2 separate regions of the Homo sapiens genome follow, and region 1 is linked to region 2. The links come from fine-mapping of genetic effects on plasma protein levels. A gene starts in region 2. The other region holds a variant in brackets. All regions are shown on one strand. Distances are from middle to middle.

Region 1 (11,308 bases), 63 kb before region 2:
GCTCCCCAAGTTCCAGGACGGAGACCTCACCCTGTACCAGTCCAATACCATCCTGCGTCACCTGGGCCGCACCCTTGGTGAGTCTTGAACCTCCAAGTCCAGGGCAGGCATGGGCAAGCCTCTGCCCCCGGAGCCCTTTTGTTTAAATCAGCTGCCCCGCAGCCCTCTGGAGTGGAGGAAACTGAGACCCACTGAGGTTACGTAGTTTGCCCAAGGTCAAGCCTGGGTGCCTGCAATCCTTGCCCTGTGCCAGGCTGCCTCCCAGGTGTCAGGTGAGCTCTGAGCACCTGCTGTGTGGCAGTCTCTCATCCTTCCACGCACATCCTCTTCCCCTCCTCCCAGGCTGGGGCTCACAGACAGCCCCCTGGTTGGCCCATCCCCAGTGACTGTGTGTTGATCAGGCGCCCAGTCACGCGGCCTGCTCCCCTCCACCCAACCCCAGGGCTCTATGGGAAGGACCAGCAGGAGGCAGCCCTGGTGGACATGGTGAATGACGGCGTGGAGGACCTCCGCTGCAAATACATCTCCCTCATCTACACCAACTATGTGAGCATCTGCACCAGGGTTGGGCACTGGGGGCTGAACAAAGAAAGGGGCTTCTTGTGCCCTCACCCCCCTTACCCCTCAGGTGGCTTGGGCTGACCCCTTCTTGGGTCAGGGTGCAGGGGCTGGGTCAGCTCTGGGCCAGGGGCCCAGGGGCCTGGGACAAGACACAACCTGCACCCTTATTGCCTGGGACATCAACCAGCCAAGTAACGGGTCATGGGGGCGAGTGCAAGGACAGAGACCTCCAGCAACTGGTGGTTTCTGATCTCCTGGGGTGGCGAGGGCTTCCTGGAGTAGCCAGAGGTGGAGGAGGATTTGTCGCCAGTTTCTGGATGGAGGTGCTGGCACTTTTAGCTGAGGAAAATATGCAGACACAGAGCACATTTGGGGACCTGGGACCAGTTCAGCAGAGGCAGCGTGTGTGCGCGTGCGTGTGCATGTGTGTGCGTGTGTGTGTGTACGCTTGCATTTGTGTCGGGTGGGTAAGGAGATAGAGATGGGCGGGCAGTAGGCCCAGGTCCCGAAGGCCTTGAACCCACTGGTTTGGAGTCTCCTAAGGGCAATGGGGGCCATTGAGAAGTCTGAACAGGGCTGTGTCTGAATGTGAGGTCTAGAAGGATCCTCCAGAGAAGCCAGCTCTAAAGCTTTTGCAATCATCTGGTGAGAGAACCCAGCAAGGATGGACAGGCAGAATGGAATAGAGATGAGTTGGCAGCTGAAGTGGACAGGATTTGGTACTAGCCTGGTTGTGGGGAGCAAGCAGAGGAGAATCTGGGACTCTGGTGTCTGGCCTGGGGCAGACGGGGGTGTCTCAGGGGCTGGGAGGGATGAGAGTAGGATGATACATGGTGGTGTCTGGCAGGAGGCGGGCAAGGATGACTATGTGAAGGCACTGCCCGGGCAACTGAAGCCTTTTGAGACCCTGCTGTCCCAGAACCAGGGAGGCAAGACCTTCATTGTGGGAGACCAGGTGAGCATCTGGCCCCATGCTGTTCCTTCCTCGCCACCCTCTGCTTCCAGATGGACACAGGTGTGAGCCATTTGTTTAGCAAAGCAGAGCAGACCTAGGGGATGGGCTTAGGCCCTCTGCCCCCAATTCCTCCAGCCTGCTCCCGCTGGCTGAGTCCCTGGCCCCCCTGCCCTGCAGATCTCCTTCGCTGACTACAACCTGCTGGACTTGCTGCTGATCCATGAGGTCCTAGCCCCTGGCTGCCTGGATGCGTTCCCCCTGCTCTCAGCATATGTGGGGCGCCTCAGTGCCCGGCCCAAGCTCAAGGCCTTCCTGGCCTCCCCTGAGTACGTGAACCTCCCCATCAATGGCAACGGGAAACAGTGAGGGTTGGGGGGACTCTGAGCGGGAGGCAGAGTTTGCCTTCCTTTCTCCAGGACCAATAAAATTTCTAAGAGAGCTACTATGAGCACTGTGTTTCCTGGGACGGGGCTTAGGGGTTCTCAGCCTCGAGGTCGGTGGGAGGGCAGAGCAGAGGACTAGAAAACAGCTCCTCCAGCACAGTCAGTGGCTTCCTGGAGCCCTCAGCCTGGCTGTGTTTACTGAACCTCACAAACTAGAAGAGGAAGAAAAAAAAAGAGAGAGAGAAACAAAGAGAAATAACCATGGTCACTGTCCTGGAGCACCACACAGTGTATATAGAAGGAGAAAAGTCTCATAGAAACATGCTTTCTAGGCACAGCACGTGCCTGTCAGATGGACAGACTCCAGGATGGAGGGAAATGAGGGATTCTGGGAAGGAGGGATGTGAGGAGTTCCCTGTCCTGGGGGATTAGCTGAGTAGCTCTGAGCAGCCCAGGTTGGTGGGAGGGTCATTCTGCTTGGATGGGGGCTTTCCTGGCTTCCTGCTGACTTGTGAGTTTTGGTGCATCCTAGGCAAGCAATGACACTACTGTATTAGGATTCTCCAGAGAAGCTAAGCCAGTAAGATGCTGTAGGGCAGGCAAAATTTTATCTCTGTCCTTTTAGGGTTTTTTGGCTGGGCCTGAGAACTAAAGACATGAGCAAGAGAAAAGCATTCAAATTTATCTAGGCTGGGCATAGTGGCTCATGCCTGTAATCCCAGCACTTTGGGAGGCTGAGGCAGGTGAATCACTTGAGGTCAGGAGTTCAAGACCAGCCTGACCAACATGGTGAAACCCCGTCTCTACTAAAAATACAAAAATTAGCCAGGTGTGGTGGCGGTTACCTGTAGTCCCTGCTACTTGGGAGGCTGAGGCATGAGAATCGCTCTCTCTCTCCTGCCACCTTGTAAAGATGTGCCTGCTTCCCCTTCACCTTCCACCCTGATTGTAAGTTTCCTGAGGCTTCCCAGTCATGCTTCCTGTTAAGCCTGCAAAACTGTGAGTCAATTAAACCTCTTTTCTTCATAAATTACTCAGTCTCTGATAGGTCTTTGTAGCAGTGTGAGAATGGACTAATACACTGTTTTTGTTTTGTTTTGTTTTGTTTTGTTTTTGAGATGGAGTCTCACTCTGGTGCCTAGGCTGGAGTATAGTGGTGTAATCTCTGCTCACTGTAACCTCTGCCTCTCAGACTCAAGCAATTCTCCTGCCTCAGCCTCCTGAGTAGCTGGGATTACAGGTGCCCACCACCGCGCCTGGCTAATTTTTGTATTTTTAGTAGAGATGGGCTTTCATCATGTTGGCCAGGCTGGTTTCGGACTTTTAACCTCACGTGATCCACTCGCCTTGGGCTCCCAAAGTGCTGGGATTACAGGCGTGAGCCACCGCACCCAGCCTAATACGCTATATTAATCAGAAACTGCCAACTAACCTCTAACTTGGGACTTTTCACTCTAACCAGTCAAAATTGTTTTCTTTGTCTGGCTTCTGCAAAATGATTAAGTTTCACTTCCCCTCTAATAGAAGCACTAGCTGCTTTGGTCTTGTGCTATCTTAATTTATGTGTCACTGAATGCTCAAATAAACTCTTTAGAATGTAAATGGGCTTAAGTTTATCTTCTAGCAGATCTGATGTCAGAGGTAGGATCCTTCAGAAGGACATCAGAAGGATCTGAAGGATTTCTCCCCATCCTGGGCCCAGTGATGGTCTCCAGGAGCAATGAGCAAACA[G/A]GTGTAGGCATTTCACTGAGCCCCCTGCACGCTGCTTCCTGCAGCATATTTGAAGGTCATCACTGGTAAGTCCCACTCAGATACTGTATTAGTCCCTTCTCACACTGCTATAAAGAACTACCTGAGACTGGGTAATTTATAAAGAAAAGAGGCTAAGCCAGGTGTGGTGGCTCATACCTGTAATCCCAACACTTTGGTTTTTTTTCTGGTTGTTGTTGTTGTTGTTTTTTGAGTCAGAGTCTCACTCTGTCGCCCAGGCTGGAGTGCAGTGGCACAATCTCAGCTCACTGCAACCTCCACTTTCTGGGTTCAAGTGATTCTCCTGCCTCTGCCTCCCAAGTAGCTAGGATTACAGGCACATGCCACCATGCCTGGCTAATTTTTGTATTTTTAGTAGAGACAGGGTTTCACCATGTTGGCCAGGCTGGTGTCAAAACTCCTGATCTCAGGTGATCCACTCGCCTCGGCCTCTCAAAGTGCTGGGATTACAGGCGTAAGCCACTGCACCCAGCCAATCCCAGCACTTCAGGAGGCTGAGGCGAGCAGATCACTTGAGGTCAGGAGTTGGAGACCAGCCTGGCCAACATGGTGAAAACCCCATTTCTACTAAAAATATTTAAAAAATCAGCTGGGCATGGTGGCACGTGCCTGTAATCACAGCTACTCGGGAGGCTGAGGTAGGAGAATCCCTTGAACCCGGGAGGCAGAGGCTGCAGTGAGCTGAGATGACGCCTCTGCACTCCAGCCTGGGTGACAGAAGATTGATTGACTCACAGTTCTGCATGGCTGGGGAGGCCTCAGGAAACCTACAATCGTGGCAGAAGGCGAATGGGAAGCAAGGCACATCTTACATGGTGGCAGGGGAGGTAAGGGGGGAAGTTCCACATCCTTTTATACCAACAGAGCACGTGACAACTCACTGTCACGAGAATAGCAAGGGGGAAATTCGCCCCCATGATCCTATCACCTCCCACTAAGTCCCTCCCTCACCACGTGGAGATTACAATTCAAGATGAGATTTGGGTGGGGACACAGCCAAACCATATCACATACAAACTCCAGAACTTAAATCGAGTTCTCTGAGTTGAGCCGATCTGGACTGGGTTTGGAAGTTGTGGTAGAAGTTTAACGCATCCTGTAGGGAGGCTTCAGGTATCTGACTGGGTCAGACAGAAACTGAAATGGTTTTAGTGAAAGACCTCTAATAGGTAAGGTTCCAGGAAAACAAACAATTCTGGGCTCATTTAAATCCAGGGGGTCTGGGACTCCATCGCAGGACTTGTGCTCTTCTAGAGAGATGATTGAATCTTACCAAAAATAATTTAGAATTTTGGTGGCCACAGTGGGGAAGTTTTAACCTAAATAAAACTGCTCATCTCCAGAATGCATTGAAAAAAAAGAGGGGGGATCCCAAACACCCCAGAAATAATGGGTTGTATTTTTGGTTGGCAAGCAGAGGGTTCTAAGTTCTCCATCTTTCTCACTAGCCTCCTCTGAATCTGCTGACTTCTTTGCTTGGTTACCTTCCCACCTTGACGATGCAATGAAAAAAAACCCAGCTAGATAAGTTATACAAGTTAGGCTGTCAAATCAACCATGTCTGCTTCTTTACCCTTATGCCATAGTTAAAATCTTAAGCTCAGAGCAATAATAAAAGGTATCCCTGTCCGGCATAGAAAATGCTTTGTCTGCCCTATTTGTTAATGGGCTCCACCCTGACCTCAGTAATCTAGTTACACATATGTTGACAGGACCTGAGGAAGCTCAAAATTGGATGCAAGAGGCAGAATGGTATTGCTCTGAGGACAATATCCAAGGTCCACAAGCCCCTACTTGGTCCATATATAGGCCAGAAGAAACCCAAACTTTTGACCGGGTGCAGTGGCTCACGCCTGTAATCCCAGCACTTTGGGAGGCCGAGGAGGGTGGATCACGAGGTCAGGAGGTCAAGACCATCCTGGCTAACATGGTGAAACCCTGTCTCTACTAAAAATACAAAAAAATTAGCCGGGTGTGGTGGCAGGCACCTGTAGTCCCAGCTGCTTGGGAGGCTGAGGCAGGAGAATGGCGTGAACCTGGGAGGTGGAGCTTACAGTGAGCCGAGATTGCACCACTGCACTCCAGCCTGGGTGACAAAGCGAGACTCCGTCTCAAAAAAAAAATCGATGCCTGATAGCATTTTAATTTATCAGTTAGTCTGGAAACTACACGAGAAGAAAGAACAAAATACCCTTAAACAACTACCCCCGGCAGGGAGACTCATTTTCCTGTCTCTCCTGGCCTGATACGTTTTGCATAGCTCGCATTCTTCACACTGCTCTAAGCTACTTTTCTTTCTCATTTCCCTCTTTTGATAGATATTTTTCTCTTCTGAAAGCATTGATGATCGACATTTTTTTTATGCATATGATTTTTGTTCACTGTCACGTAAGATTCAGGAATCAATGTGTTAGATGCAAGTTTGTCCCATGTCACTGGGAAGGCTTATTCCCAGGCCATCTGTCCTACTTCAGAGAGAAAGAGGAGAGGTACCTATGGTTAAAGAATTTAGTGAAGGTGCCGGGCACGGTGGCTCACGCCTGTAATCCCAGCACTTTGGGAGGCCGAGGCGGGTGGATCACCTGAGGTCGGGAGTTCGAGACCAGCCTGGCCAACATGGTGAAACCCGTCTCTACTAAAAATACAAACATTACCCGGGCGTGGTGGTGCACGCTTATAATCCCAGCTACTCAGGAGGCTGAGGCAGGAGAATCGCTTGAACCTGGGAAGCAGAGGTTGCAGTGAGCCAAGATCGCACCATTGCACTCCAGCCTGGGCAACAAGAGCAAGACTTCATTTCAAAAAAAAAAAAAAAAAAAAAGAATTTAGTGAAGTCTCAAGGTCAAATTGATTAGAACCACAGAGGGACAAAGCAATGGGAACTCAGTCGAGCCATCCGCTTACAAAGGAGCCGTGACATGTGAGAGCATTTCTAAGCATCTAGCTATCATGATTTTATTTTTTGTTGTTGACTTAAGACATCTAGAAATGCAAAGCATAATCAATTTAAGAATAAAAACTACTGGCCGGGCACAGTTGCTCACACCTGTAATCCCAGCACTTTGGGAGGCTGAGGTGGGAGGCTGAGTTGGGCAGATCACTTGAGGTTAGGAGTTCGAGACCAGCCTGGCCAACATGGTGAAACCTGTCTCTACTAAAAACACAAAAATTAGCCAGGTGTGGTGGCAGACACCTGTAATCCCAGCTACTCAGGAGGCCGAGGCAGGAGATTCGCTTGAACCCTGGAGGCGGAGCTTGCAGTGAGCTGAGATGGCGCCACTGCACTCCAGCCTAGGCGACAAGAGTGAAACTGTATCAAAAAAAAAATATGATGCAAATAAAGACAGTTATTAACAAAACAAGTTGAAATCCAGATCTGAAAAGTGTTCTTATTTGTGAAGGTAACAAATCAAATAGATCATGTAATGGGGTTGGCTTTTTGACAGCTTGCAGCCATTTAGCCTTTTGAGTGATCCTTCCAAACCGAGTTTCCACTTCTCATCCAGGTTTGAAGAACAAGGTGACTGGTTGTGGTCAGCTTCGGTGGGAGATCTCTGGTGATGAAAGATGTCCACTCAGGTGGGCTGCCTTTTTAAAGTGAAAAAAAAAATGAGAATCCATGAGTCAATGCCCCTGATGTTAGCTGCACAAAGACTGGTTAACAGTACGTGACATGATCCCTTCCAACATGGTTGGAGGGAGTATTTTATTTGATGATGTTTCCAATAAACAAAATCTCCAGGTTGGAAGCTGTGATCTTTGATGTCTGTCTCCAGGGAGATTGCTTTTTAAAAGAATTCTTCATTAATTAAATTTTTTTTTAATTGAGAAGCTTTATAAAGGCCCTGGCAATCATGAAGTATAGCATTTTTAAGAAGAGCTAGCTCATAGACTTCTGCATTCAGGCACATGGCCTTCCTGTTATTTCAAAGAAAGAAAGCCGATGTTGTTGAAATGGGGTAGAGTGTGAATTAAGCAATACCAATGGGAGACTCTTAGGCCAGAGAAGTTTCAAGTTTCTATAAGCTTGGCCAGGCACGGTGGCTCACACCTGTAATCCCAGCACTTTGGGAGGCCGAGGCAGACGGATCACCTGAGGCCGGGAGTTCGATACCAGCCTGGCCAACATGGCGAAACCCGTCTCTACTAAAAAGTACAAAAATTAGCTGGGCATGGTGGTGGGTGCCTGTAATCCCAGCTACTCAGGAGGCTGAGGCAGGAGAATTGCTTGAACCTGGGAGGCGGAGGTTGCAGTGAGCTGAGATCGCGCCACTGCCCTCTAGCCTGAGCGACAAGAGGGAGACTGTCTCAAAAAAAAAAAAAGTTTCTATAAGCTTTGCCAATTTGATTTTTATTATTTGTGCATTTCACAAGTCTGGAAGACTGAGGGTGGTATGGACAATGGAAATGTTGAAAAATCAGCCATACGTTACAAATAAACTGAATTATTTGACCAGTGAAATGGGTTCATTAGTTTCCATGAAGATTGGAGGGAGCTCTCCAAGAAGGAATAGGGCAAGATTTAAAGTAGTCATGGTCAAAGATGCAATCAACAAAGAAATTTGGTCATTTTATTTTTTTGTGGCCTACTGAAACGGGAAGGGTTCCCTTGTCCCCCTTGCAGGGCATGTGATGGGGGAGTGGCTCGCTTCTTCAGTGCCCCGCTGCTCAGACCTGCAGGGGAGCATACAGATGGGCAGGTTGTGGGGCTCCAACCCACGGCAGCATCTAGGGGTGGATGTTTACAGCTCCTGAAGCCCTAGTGGGCATGTGTTACAGGGTGCTCTTTTAGTTTTGCCATCTATAGGCAGCTTGTGTTAACCAGCAGCTCAATTAGACCCTCTGCTTTGTTACAAGGACAGAGGGATTTCTGTATCCCAGGTTCTTGCCTTGGTGTACTGGAAGAATAGGATCACACCTGGGCTTGGAGAATGAGTGCAAGGTTTTATTGAGTGGAGGTAACTCTCAGCAGTTGGAGGAAGCCAGAAGGGCATGGAGTGGGAAGGTTTTGCCCTGGAGTCAGGCTGCTCAGCGGCCTGGGCTTGCCTTTGACTGCCCGGCCAAACTCCGCCTCGTTCTGCAGGTGGATGGCCTGCCGGCATGCTGGCGTCTGTCGTGTGCTCTTCCACCAGCCTGCTCCCTTCTGTGGCAGATTGGTCAGAGAGGTGGGAAGAACTATAGGGAAAGGACGCAAACCTTCTGAAAGGTGGGAAGGTTCTGCAGAGCCCTGGGGGAGAAGAACTGAAGGCAGCTCTTCTATAACCCTGAGGCAGAGGGCAAGGAGTAGGTACAAGGGAGTATGGGGGATTTTATCTTAAATAGGCATGTTTACTTATGTCGACCAGGAACTGACCTTAGATCATCTATGATCACCTATGATCATGTTTCAGGGAACATGAGGTTCCCTGAAAGGGGAATAATAAATATTAATGACTTACAGATTGTGTCGGCTCCAGGTTTTCGACATTGTGCCTGCACTGAATAAAAGCAAAGCAGCTCCAGCTTCTTCCACTAGAGCCAGGCAGTCACCTAGCTGCTCTTAACACTGCATACCTGTGTCTGGGTACTCATTTCCTCTGTTGGCCAGGGTCTGTGGGACAGAGCTGGCACCCCTCAATGACCTCTCAACGTCCAGCCACTTGTGTCTTCTTCTGCCAATGTGTTCCTCTCCACGTCCAGCTGCTTGTGTGTCTGCTTGCTAGGGTCTCAGGGTTTTTATAGGCACAGGATATGGGTGTGGTGGGCCAGGGTGCTCTTTGGAAATGCAATATTTGGGCAGGAAAACAAAAATGCCTGTCTTCACCCAGGTCCATGGGCACAGGCCTGGGGGTGGAGCCCTAGCCAGGGACTACACATTCCTCTACCCAGCACTTCCCTGCCCCCCTTCCGTATCACTATAATTCAACACAATACTTACAATAATGACTGATAATATATACCAACACATATCAGATTTTTAGGAATCTCATATAATTTTGGAACACATATTAATAACACATTTCACAAATATAACTCAAAGAAAGTTAAATGTCATTTCTTTTTTGACAATGCTTGCTGTGTAATTTTTACATGCCAAATAATACCAAGTTCTCTTGAACTTACATGGGTTTTTTTTTTCTTTTTCAAATGTTGAAACGTTAGTTTGAGGTCAAAATGGCTTAATTTAGAATTTGAATTTTCATTTTTGGAAGTTTGTCAAATACCAAAGCTTTAAAACACTTGATATTAAAATAGAAAAGGTTTAAAAGACTTGTTCAAAATAGAATCATGGGGAACTTCAAAATAATAGTCATTCATTTAGCCAAAGTGATAACTGAAAGATTTCAGAAAAGCTGGGTGTGGTGACTCACATCTGTAATCCCAGCACTTTGGGAAGCCAAGGTGGGAGGATCACCTGAAGTCAGGAGTTCGAGACCAGTCTGGCCAACATGGTGAAACCCTGTCTCCCCTAAAAATACAAAATTAGTTGGGCATGGTGGCAGGTGCCTGTAATCCCCGCTACTCAAGAGGCTAAGGCAGGAGAATCGCTTGAACACGGGGGGTGGGGGGAAGGTTGCATTGAGCCAAGTTCGCACCATTGCACTGTAGCCTGGGCAAAAAGAGCGAAACTCCATCTAAAAAAAAAAAAGATTTCCGAAAGCAAAAACCTTTATTGTTTGATAGAGAGGAGACTCAGTTTTCTAAACAATCCAAAGACCTAATGAAGGAAGCATAAGGCAAACTCGCTCCTCTTTTTTTATTTTTTTCACTTTGCAGTTTGCTCAAAAGGCAAACAAAAATCTTTTACAATCTCTTATTACTACTACATGAAAATCTCGTTTAAAAGAGAAAACTAAATTCTACCTTTACATTAGTGTATTATTAATGCTACAGCTAAAAATATAGTTATAATAAAATCTTGCAAACAGATCCATCTAATCTCAATCACTTTTGACCACTACTCAAGATAAAGTTTCTATATACCTTTTATACTCTTACAATGTTTTCCTTTTTCTTTTCTCTTTTCTTTTCTTTTTTTTTTTTTTTTTTGAGATGGAGTCTCGCTCTGTCACCCAGGCTAGAGTGCAGTGGCACGATCTCTGCTCACTGCAACCTCTGCCTCCCGGGTTCAAGCGATTCTCCTGCCTCAGCCTCTGAAGAAGCTGGGACTACAGGCACCCACCACCATGCTCGGCTAATTTTTGTATTTTTAGCAGAGACAGGGTTTCACCATATTGGCCAGGCTGGTTTCGAACTCCTGACCTTGTGATCTGCCCACCTCGGCCTCCCAAAGTGCTGGGATTACAAGTGTGAGCCACCGTGTCCGGCCACAATGTTTTTCATTGTCTTTCTTTCTCCAGCTTTGTTTATTCATTTGGCTTTATCTATCTCATATATATGATATGATATGATACACACACAGATGCATATATATACGTATGCGTATATATACACACACATACACGAACGTATATAATCATATATATTTCTTAATGGGATATATATATATAATTTTACAGATGGGGTATTGCTCTATTGTCCAGGCTGGAGTGCAGTGGCAAAATCAGAGCTCCTGGGCTCAAGCAATCCTCCTGCCTCAGCCTCCTGAATAGCTGAGACTACAGGCATGAACCACCATGCCCAGCTAATTTAAAAAAAT
Region 2 (11,068 bases):
CCCTTCGTCCTTCTGCTGGGCCCCAGAGGGGCCACCTTCCTTAACACTACTAAGAGGTACACCCGCAGTGGGGTGGTGACTTGGTTTTGGTCACCACCAGAGCAGGCTATTGAAAGTTACTATAGAGGTGTCACCTTGATGGCCACCAAGATGACAAGCTGCCCCTCCTTCACCACCTCGGCAACATGCCTCTGTCCTTGCAGCCCGGAGAGGGCTGTGGTCACTCCTGAGTCGCCCTTACCCAAAGGTGCCATGTGGAGCCCCAGTTTTACAGCTCTTTGTTGCTTTAAGCAAAATTTTAAAATGTTTGATCCGGGATTTCAGTCATTTTCAAGGACAGTGTAACTCAGATGACTCGGTTTGCCCTGTTTTGGGAACAACCCTCAGGCTCATTTTATAGATGTGAAAACTGAGGCTCAGAAAATTGTCTGCAGGCACACAAGCCCTAGAGGCAGGCTGCAGGTGGCCCACAGAACCCTAGGGGCAGACTGTTCAGCGGCACACAGAGCCCTAGAGGCGGGCTGCAGGTGGCGCACAGAGCCCTAGAGGCGGGCTGTAGGTGGCACTCAGTGCGTCCAATGTGGCTCCATCCCCTCCTGCTGCCTCTCAAGAGCAAAGTGGGGAAGGATGAAGGTGAGGTCCCCTGCACTCAGCCCTGGGGCCTCTACCTCCCACCAGGCTCAGCTGTCTGCTGGGAGGAGCTGAGGCCAGTTCCGAAGTCACTGGGGAGTGAGGCAAGCTGCTCCGCCAGGGCCTGCTGGATGCCAGGTGCTGGGACCCTGAGCTGGAGCCTCCCCCAGGCATCGATCCTGGGCCTTCTTTACCACCACACTGGGTCTCCCCGGGCCAGTCCAGCCCTGCTCCAGATGCCAGGCCCACCAGCCTGGGGGGCTCTGGGTGGCCAGGACCCTCTAAGTTACACCCTCTCGGAAGCTGCCCCAGATCACACTCAGCTCTGTGTGGCCTGGGCTCTCCTGCCCTCCACACCCAAGGCTTCGTGAGCTCAGAGCATGGCGATTGTGGGGACAGGGGATTTGTCATCCTGGCTCCCATCAGGGCAGCTGGGATCTTGACAGGGTGTCAAGAGGGGTGGATGGAGTGTGAGGCTGAGCCCCCAGTGGGCCGGGGCTCCCTATGAGCCCCCTCCAGGGGCCACTCCTCCTGGCACCTGGAGCCTCAGCAAAGGGAGGGCAGAGACTGCCATTAGGGGGCCATGCCATGCCATCAACTCCTGTATCCGGCCCAGCCCTGGGGGCAGCTGTCACCGGCTCCATTTTGCAGGTGTGGACTGAAGCTCTAGGGGTTGGGTGACTTGACTGAGTCCTTGGCAGGTGGTGGGAGAGGGAGTCAGCAGAGGAGCCTGTCGGCCTGGGTCTGTTCCTTCCTTGCTTGGGGTAGGGGTCTCAGGGACCCCCATGCTGCTTTATGAGTCCCAGGCCATGGTCTTTGTTGGAAGGCCCCCCCAACCCCCACAGAGGCTGGGATCCTGCTGACTCGGTGTGGTACCTCTCAGGAAGGAAGGGCCTCCGTGGCAGACCTAGCTATTTTGGGGGCTGCTGGGGGCCAGGGTGCTTCCTGCCACAAGGTGCTGGGCCCCCAAGTTTAGGGAGAACAGCAGTAGGGGTGCTGGAAAGTTTCACTTCCCTTGGCTGGGGTCCAGCTTCTGCATTTCAGTGAGTGTTTATGGAACAGAACGGGGTCCAGGAACCCTCAGAAACAGCAGCCCCCAGTCCTGGCAGTGTGTGCGCGTGTGTGCATGTGTGTGCATGCATGTGTGCATCTGTACATGTGTGCGTGTGCATGAGAGCATGTGTGTGCGTGTGTGCACTCACATGTGTACGTGACAGCATGCGTGTGTGCGTGCGTGTGTACATGTGTGTGCATGTGCATGAGTATTGTGTGCATGTGTGCATGTATGTGTACATGTGTGCGTGTGTGCATGAGAGCATGTGTGCGTGTGTGCGCATGTGTGACAGCATGCATGTGTGCGTGTGTACGTGTGTGCATGTGCATGAGAGTATTGTGTGCATGTGTGCATGCATGTGTGTGTACATGTGTGCGTGTGTGCATGAGAGTGTGTGTGCATGTGTGTGCATGTGTGCATGTGCTTGAGAGCGTGTGTGCGTGCATGTGCGTGAGCATGTGTGCGTGTGTGTGTGTTGTGTGCACACGTGTGACCTGGCTCTGGCCCCACCTCCCTGACAGGCTGTGTGACCTGGAGAGATTCAGTGCCCTCTCTGGGCCTTGGCTCCACCCTGTGAAAGTCCTGGCCAAGGGCAGCTGTGGGGAGTGAGGAACAAAGGGCGGGCACAAGCTTGAAAATGGGCACATGGAGACCCCAGCATGAGTGAGGGCAGAGGATGGTGATGTCATGGGCATCATCACGGGGGCCAATTTCCTCACTGCAGTTGGGGAAACTGAGACCCAGAGAGGGGTCAGAGCTGTGGTTCCCCCCTGTGTCAGCATCCAATTAGATCATGCCTCCCAGCATCACCTCATTGCAAGATGCAATCAGATCACGCCTCATTACCCTATGCTTATAAAACCTGCCCCAGCCCTCAGCTCGGGGAGACACTGCTTTGGGAGCTGTCTAGGTGTTCTCCTTACTTGTTGCAAGAAATAAAATCCCCTATTAAATCCTCTTTAGTTAACACCCGCCAAGCAACTGAGCCCACCCGTTGTGTGGGTAACAAAACTCTGGCGACCCAGATGGGGCCGACTGGGATTCTGATCCTAACTTCTTGAGGCTCACTAAGGTAAAGCAGTGGGCCGCGGCACCTTCCCCGGGCGAACTCACCCACGTGGCCCCAGAGGGTTGAGGGTGACTCCCGGGGATCTTCTGCTTGCTGCGTGGCCCGTGGGGCTGTCACTCCGCCCTACCCCCGAAACAGCGGAAGCAGCTGCCTGGAGCTTTTGTTCTGTGCTGCTCCTTCAGGGAAGAAAGTGGACTTTGCCCCGTGGGTTGACTGAAAGGGTAAATTCTTTGGACCTAGCAGTGGGATCTCTAGACTTCAGCGCAGGGCACCTCTGCTTTCGGTTTCTGTCTGGCTCTACGTGCCGTGGGGGATTGAGAGGCATCTCTGGCCAGGCCAAGGGCAACCCGGATCCCGGATCTGGGTAGACAACAGTGGGACTAGTTTTGGGAATTCGTTTTTTTTTTTTTGAGACAGAGTCTGGCTCTGTCACCCAAGCTGGGGTGCAGTGGCGCGATCTCGGCTCACTGCAAGCTCCACCTCCCGGGTTCACGCCATTCTCCTGCCTCAGCTTCCTGAGTAGCTGGGACCACAGGCGCCCGCCACCACGCCCGGCTAATTTTTTGCATTTTTAGTAGAGACGGGGTTTCACCGTGTTAGCCAGGATGGTCTCGATCTCTTGACCTCGTGATCCGCCCGCCTCGGCCTCCCAAAGTGCTGAGATTACAGGCGTGAGCCACCGCGCCCAGCATGAGAATTTGTTCTTTTTTAGAGAAACAGAATTTTTCACAGGAGGCTGAGCTGCTCCATCTCCCAGAGCCCCTACTTGCCATACCCCGGGTTACCAGAAACAGGAGCTCTGCCATTTGATGAAAAAAATACTTTTTTCAGATAAATGTTTTTGTCATATCATCACACAAAGCGGGTAAAGTTGTATATATATACATACAACTTTTTACAAATATGTGATCATATGTACAAAGGCTAGAAGGAAATATACAGAAAAATATGTATTAAAATACTGGTTTTTTTTCATTGTTTTATAAGATACTCTACAAAACATTACAATGAGGTAGGACTATTTTAGTGCTAGAGAATCTCATTAAATGAATTTGTTCAAGAGCTTCTTTGTCAGCTGGGTGCAGTGGCTCACACCTGTAACCCCAACACTTTGGGAGGCCAAGGGGGGCAGATTGCTTGAGCCTAGGTGTTCAAGACCAGCCTGGGCAACATAGGGAGACCCTGTCTCTACCAAAAAAAAAAAAAAAATTAGGGTGGGCGCGGTGGCTCACACCTATAATCCCAGCACTTTGGGAGGCTGAGGCGAGTGGATCACCTGATGTCAGGAGTGTAAGACCAGCCTGGGCAACATGGCAAAACCCCGTCTGTACTAAAAATACAAAATTTATCCAGGCATGGTGGTGGGTGCCTGTAATCCCAGCTACTTGGGAGGCTGAGGCATGAGGCAGAGGTTGCAGTGAGCCGAGATCATGCCATTGCACTACAGCCTGGGCGACAAGAGCGAAACTCTGTCTCAAAAAAAAAAAAAAAAAAAAATTAGCCAGGTGGTGGCACACACAGCTGTGGCCCCAGCTACTCAGGAGGCTGAGGCGGGAGAATCACTTGAGCACGGGGAGTTGGAGGTAATCGTACCGTGAGTACAGTGAGCCGTTATCGTATGGCTGCATTCCAGGCTAGACAACACAGTGAGACCTTGTCTCAAAAGAAAATAAATAAATAAATAAATAAATAAATAAATAAATAAATAAATAAAGAGCTTCTTTGTCAATATCCTTTTGTGGGTATACATCATAGTCCCACAGTACTTCTTCAACCCAGGGAGATAAATGTGTATTAGTCTGAAGACCCAGGAGAGAATCTTCAAGACTTGGCACTGTCACTGATGATGATCTGCTTCCTTACATTATGACAAATGTATTCCCAGCTCCGGCTTGTTCTGCCTCATTAAGAGAATATTTGAAGACATTATTCATGATAGCAGCATCAGCATTTTGCAGAAGAAACCCTGGGGACAGATGTCTGCATGAAGCACCTTTATTCTGTGAATAAACTGGTATTTTTTAATGACCATTTCCTGCAACTGGCAAAAGTCTCCGTTCAGTTCTACTCCACAGGGTTGCACTGCTAAGCTATAAGATCACCCCATAAAGACTGTGCTGAGCCTGGAGCTGACGTCAGCCACAGCCTTTCCTGATTGATCAGGGAGTGCATGAAGATAAATGAACTTCAATTCCATGAGGGAGAAGGAACGAGCAATCGGTCTAAAGGTTCTGTTTGGTGTGAACCACCCAGTAGTTTCTGCTCATTTTCCCTTTGTCACATAATGAATCAATGAAGTCTTTATCACAAAGGAATGCGTCAGCGTGAATGGTGGGTTCTGGCTGCTGCTGTAGTTTTTGAAGGGTTAGATGTTCTGAGGAAAGCATGGTTTCTAGAGGCAAGCAATTCTGAAGGTCTTCTGCAGTGGGTTTTTTTTTTTTTTAATTTTGAGACAAGGTCCGGCTCTGTCACCCAGGCTGGAGTGCAGTGGCTCGACTGTGGCTCACTGCAACCTCCAACTTCCAGGTTCAAGCAGTCCTCCCATCTCAGCCTCCCAAGTAGCTGAAACTACAGGCACGCACCCAGCTAATTTTTTTTTTGAGATGGGGTCTTGCTATGTTGTCCAGTCTGGTCTCAAACTCCTGAGCTCAAGTGATCCACCCCCTTCAGCCTCCTAAAGTGCTGAGATTACAGGCATAAGCCACCACACCCAACCTTTCTGCTGTGTTTTTAAACACAATGTCTTTATTTCCTTCAGTGAATTCATCAAAATCTCGGGCAGTTTGCATCTGCTGGAGCAGTGCCGGGCGGTCGGCAGAGCCACAGTATAGAGCAGTTACAAGATTTCCTGCCTTGCCGAGTGAAATCTATGCCTTCCAATTTTTTTTAATTAATTAATTTTTAAAAAATTAGATTGGTACAAAAGTAATTGCAGTTTTTGCCATTACTTTCAATGGCAAAAACAGCGGTTACTTTTGAACCAACCTAATATTATAGAGACAGGGTTTCACCATCTTACCTAGGTTGGTCTCGAACTCCTAAGCTCAAGTGATCCACCCACCTCGGCCTCCCAAAGCGTGGTGATTATAGGCATGAGCCACCATGCCCGCCCCTCCCCACCAATATATTTTTAAAACTAGTTGAGTGTGGGCCAAGAGTTGTGGGATCTGTGTCACCACCAATCCCGCCTCTAAGCTGCTGGGTGGGTAATATGGGAAAACAGTAATTGTAGCAGGACTCCAGTGGCAGAAGCCATGCGGATAAACTACAAAAAGCAGAAGGGACACTGGGGATGCTGACATCTCCATTGGTTGAGATTACCCTTAAGGTATTGAGCAACTGTGGCCAGGTCCAGGAAGGGCAAAAAAAAAACAAAAAACAAAAAACAAAAAGGCAACACAAGACAAGAAGCCATCGAGTCTCTTGGCTACAACCAGCCAGTACACAAGAAACAGTTCACTGCGGCCAGGCGTGGTGGCTCATGTCCGTAATCCCAGCACTTTGGGAGGCTGAGGCGGGAGGATCACCTGAGGTCAGGAGTTCAAGACCAGCGTGGCCAACATGGCTAACCCTGTCTCTACTAAAAATATAAAAAATTAGCCAGGCATGGTGGTGGGCACTTGTAATCCCAACTACTCGGGAGGCTGAAGCAGGAGAATCGCTTCAACCCAGGAAGCGAAGGTTGTAAGCTGATATCGCGCCATTGCACTCTAGCCTGTGCGACAAGAGCAAAACTCTTTCTTGAAAAAAACAAAAAACAAAAAAACAAAACAGTTCACTGGAGATGATCAGCCATAAGTAAGATCCCTAGGGACCCCACTGCCCGGCCAAAGGGCCTCCCGCCCTTGAGAACACAACAGTGTGCATATTGTAAACAAGAGGGCCATTGGGTACTAGAGTGTCCTAACTGTCCCCAGTGGGTAGGGAAAGAAACTTCCCCGTCAATCAGCCCACCAGATGCTACAGTTTGCTAATAGTGACCAGAAGTGATGGGACTTGGGGACTCCTCTATGATCTGGGAACCCCTAGATCGGGTAACAATTGCTGTGGGAGAGACTCACGGGTTTTCCGACACTAGAGCCAAATTTTTGCCTGTCTCCTTTCTACCGTGTTCTTCCTAAAATTTAGGAAAGGGCTTCTGCTGTATGGGAGAGATAAATTTTAGCTAAAATTGTTAGTTGGACGGAGACAGAGTTGGAACTGTCTTTTAAGTAGTGAATTTTACCTGACCCATGGCTAAACCTTTAAAAGTTAAAGCTATAGGATCGTTATTTGTATCTGGTAGTATGTACACGTCCGGTTATATTTGGCTATGGTACCGAATTGGCTTATAAAGAAATGAGTACTCATAAACTAAGCAAATAAGACCAAGTGCTTTTCAAGTTCACATGACAGTAATCTTTTGGTGAATGGAACTAGTCTAAAATTGTTGGTTTGATGGGAATGGTGTGCCTTCTGAAATGTAACTTAAAGGTTCTTACTTTTTTTTTTTTTTTTTTGAGACGGAGTCTCGCTCTGTCGCCCAGGCTGGAGTGCAGTGGCGTGATCTCGGCTCACTGCAAGCTCTGCCTCCCGGGTTCACGCCATTCTCCTTCCTCAGCCTCCCGAGTAGCTGGGACTACAGGCGCCTGCCACCACGCCCGGCTAATTTTTTGTATTTTTTTTTTTTTTTTAGTAGAGATGGGGTTTCACTGTGTTAGCCAGGATGGTCTTGATCTCCTGACCTCGTGATCTGCCCACCTCGGCCTCCTAAAGTGCTGGGATTACAGGCGTGAGCCACAGCATCCGGCCTTAAAGGTTCTTACTTTTATGATAGTTGCCTGACATCCAGCTATATAAAGGTAATTAACAGATAAATAATTTGAAATGATGACTAGCTTTGTCTAATATATCAGTTCTCATAAGTAATCCTGGTAAACTGCTAAAAATAAATAAAGTATGTAAAGGTAAATGGGATAAGTATCTATCGGCTTTTTAATGTAATTTGAAATCCTCTATTAGGTAATGGATACTCATTAACTATGTGAGTTATTTCCAAATAAGACAAAAACTGGAACAAATTGCTGACCATAAATATGTTTGCCCTGGGTCTCTTAAATTTAATATAAAGACTAAATATGTTTGGGCCTATAAATACGTATAAAAATTATGCTATAGGAAAACATGTTTTTCTAACAATTACAAAATGGCTCTTCCCCATAAAATACCAATATGTGATAGGAAGTTCAAGATTTTGTGCTTCCTATGTTTTCAACAAAATTTAAGGGAACTGGATGGGCACTGTGGCTCATGCCTGTAATTCCAGCACTTTGGGAAGCTGAAGCAGGAGGATCGTTTGAGATCAGGAGGTTCAGACCAGCCTGGGCAACATAGTGAAACTCTGTCTCTACTGAAAAACAAAAAAGAAAAAATTAGCCAGGGGTGGTGGCACATGCCTACTGTAGTCCCAGCTACTCAGGAGGCTGAGGTGGGAGGATCACTTGAGCCAGGGAGGTCAAGGCTCCAGTAAGCCAAAATCAATGCCACTGCACTCCAGCCTGGGTGATGGAGCACGACCTTGTTTCAAAAAAAGAAAAAAGATAATTAAAAACAAAAATTTAAGAGTACTAAGGGTTTTTAAAAATCCTAATATACAATTCTATATAGGAAGTGTGCCAAAAGTAAGGAGCACTTAATAAGAAAACAGTAAGAAAGGTATACAATATATTCTTTATTGAGAAAAAAAGTAATTTGTCTAATTTAGCTGTTATTTAAAGGGAGTTTTAAAATATGGATTTAGGAAAGAAATAGAAAAAAGATTAAAAGGAACCAGTAAGTAGATGAGACAGAGATGTAAAGAAAATTACAGATGTGAAGCAATGAGAGTAATTTTGTATAGGAAAGAAACTTGTGTGTTCAATCTCTGTCTTGGACTAAAATGACTAGACATTTAAGAAAGAGGAAGTACAGGGCAAGTCCAAGCATGCCACAGCTGTCTGAGTAAGTCATGATAAGGCTTGTGAATGGGAACTTATGATGGAAATGTTGGGTGTGATTAAATTGGCTGTAATTAAATGAAATGATTTGTAATAGTTTTTTTTTTTTTTGAGATGGAGTCTGGCTGTCTTGCTCATTTGCCAAGGCTGGAGTGCAGTGGTTCGATCTTGCCACACTGCAACTTGCATCTCCTGGGTTCAAGTGAGTCTCCTGCCTCAGCCTCCTGAGTAGCTGGGATTACAGGCGTGCACTACCATGCCTGGCTAATTTTCGTATATTCAGTAGAGATGGGGTTTCACCATGTTGGCCAGGCTGGTCTTGAACTCCTGACTTCAGGTGATCCTGGCCTCCCAACGTGCTGGGATTACAGGCATGAGCCACCATGCCTGGCCTGTAACAGTTTTTCTAGAGAATGAATTTGAATGTTAAAACACATGATACATAACTTACAATTTTGGTCCCCTGTGTTAAAACAACAGTGGTTTCGGCTGAGCGCAGTGGCTCATGCCTGTAATCCAGGCACTTTGGGAGGCCGAGGCAGGTGGATCATGAGGTCAGGAGATTTGAGACCAACCTGGCTAACATGGTGAAACCCCGTCTCTACTAAAAATACAAAATATTACCCAGGCTTGGGGGCGTGCACCTGCAGTCCCAGCTACTCAGGAGGCTGAGGCAGGAGAATGGCGTGAACCCAGGAGACGGAGCTTGCAGTGAGCCGAGATCACACCACTGCACTTCAGCTTGGGTGACAGAACGAGACTCCGTCTTAAAAACAAACAAACAAAAAACAGCAGTTTCTTAAGACATTAATTCACTCTTAGTAAAGTTCCAAGAGGTTTTGATATTTATTTCTAAAACCTGCTTCGTTAATAGCCATTCTCTGAATTACAAATTAGTTTCTGTTTCTGTCATATTCCTTCTTAAGATCAGTCTAATTTCTTTGGTTTCAGGTTTATCTCAAAGGTCTAGAAAAGCAGCTTTACGCCAGTATAAACTGATTCTGTGTTCTTGGTTTTTCTTAATGTGTCTGAGTTGTTTCATGTAACCAGGACTTCCCATGGTATTACTAATGTATTCCCCTGCTCACCAGCCTAGGAAACACAGATTGCTTAGGGAGACTGAGCTTTAAAGTGTTAAGGTTTTTCCATGCATGTAACTTTTCGTGTTGCTTTTGAATTCTTTTGATTGTCACTGTGGTTAAACGAGTAACTATTATTCGGCAGTGATCTCTGATTCTGTTGAAGGAAGCCATTTGAACTTTTTGACATCCTCTTTGGCAGAATTCCCCAGGATCCAAATCCTAAATTAAGCCATCTGGCCTAAAATCAACTTTGAGATTCTACCAAAAGGGCCTCCTGGAACAAGCCTCAAAGGTTTTGTCTCTGATCTTTTGGAGATATTAAATGATCAGGCTTACTTGGTAAATAATATGGGAAGCATTGTCAAATAGAAACGGTGTTTAACTTCCTTTAAGTAATGTTTGTGTAAGTGTGTCACTAACACAGGGGAAAAGGTTTGAGATTCCTAAAACTCTGATATGCCAAGATATGTGTCATGACTGTGATGGTTGTGTCACATGGTTGTATGCCAGAGAAATGCTGAAATTTCTGGCCGGGCACGGTGGCTCACATCTGTAATCCCAGCACTTTGGGAGGCCGAGGCGGGTGGATCACGAGGTTAGGAGATTGAGACCATCCTGGCTAACATGGTGAAACCCTGTCTTTACTAAAAATATAAAAAATTAGCCGGGCATGGTGGTGGGCACCTGTAGTCCCAGCTACTCGGTAGGCTGAGACAGGAGAATGGTGTGAACCTGGGAGGCGGAGCTTGCAGTGAGCTGAGAATGCGCCACTGCACTCCAGCCTGGGTGACAGAGTGAGACTCCGTCTCAAAAAGAAAAAGGAAAAAAAAAGAAATGCTGAAATTTCCTGTCAATTGTAAATTGTCATCAGATCTCTGACTGGCTGCTCTGGGCTTTTGTCACCCACAGTTAATTCTTATTTTTCAGTCAGGGTCTCACTCTATTGCCCAGGCTGGAGTACAGTGGCGTGATCACAGCTCACTTCAGCCTTAACCTCCCAGGCTCAAGTGATCCTCCCACCTCAGCTTCCTGAGTAGCTGGGACTACAGGGGTGCTCCACTGTGCCCAGCTAATTGTCTTTATTTTTTTATAAGGACAAGGTCTCATGTTTCCCAGGCTGGTCTCAAACTCCTGAGCTCAAGTGATTCTCCCGTCTTGGCTTCCCAAAATGCTGGGATTATAGGCGTGAGCCACCATGCCCTGCCACCCACAGTTGTTTTAAATTCTTCTCTGGAAGCATTCACAATTGGCTATGGTC

Which allele goes with the higher level. Positions count from the first base shown, and alleles are read on the strand shown. Strength reflects both the effect of a copy and how common the allele is.
In carriers of allele A in region 1, the plasma level of the protein whose gene starts at base 2,945 in region 2 tends to be higher than with G alone (moderate association).

What was found. A credible set is the group of variants that fine-mapping cannot tell apart. PIP is the chance, under the fine-mapping model, that this variant and not a neighbour inherited with it causes the effect. Protein levels are from antibody-based Olink assays in UK Biobank. Linkage for the fine-mapping came from a reference panel and not from the study's own genotypes, which makes the PIPs less certain.
Region 1: its variant is the best candidate, but not a certain one, in a credible set for the plasma level of the ACY3 protein (UK Biobank, PIP 0.55).

The regions. Positions count from the first base shown.
Region 1 is chr11:67,584,696-67,596,003 of GRCh38, forward strand. GSTP1 (glutathione S-transferase pi 1) reads left to right here. Exons shown (of 7, transcript NM_000852.4): 4 at 1-77; 5 at 443-546; 6 at 1,409-1,516; 7 at 1,694-1,958. The coding sequence ends at 1,882. Among named protein-coding and RNA genes, the nearest start is that of GSTP1, 6.5 kb to the left of the region's middle. RefSeq lists enhancers at 1,996-2,065, 3,429-3,718 and a silencer at 3,360-3,560. The variant G/A (reference allele first, on the strand shown) is at 3,631.
Region 2 is chr11:67,647,786-67,658,853 of GRCh38, forward strand. ACY3 (aminoacylase 3) reads right to left here and starts at 2,945. Exons shown (of 8, transcript NM_080658.2): 1 at 2,798-2,945. RefSeq lists enhancers at 327-406, 817-1,339, 867-1,286, 3,017-3,096, 3,167-3,226.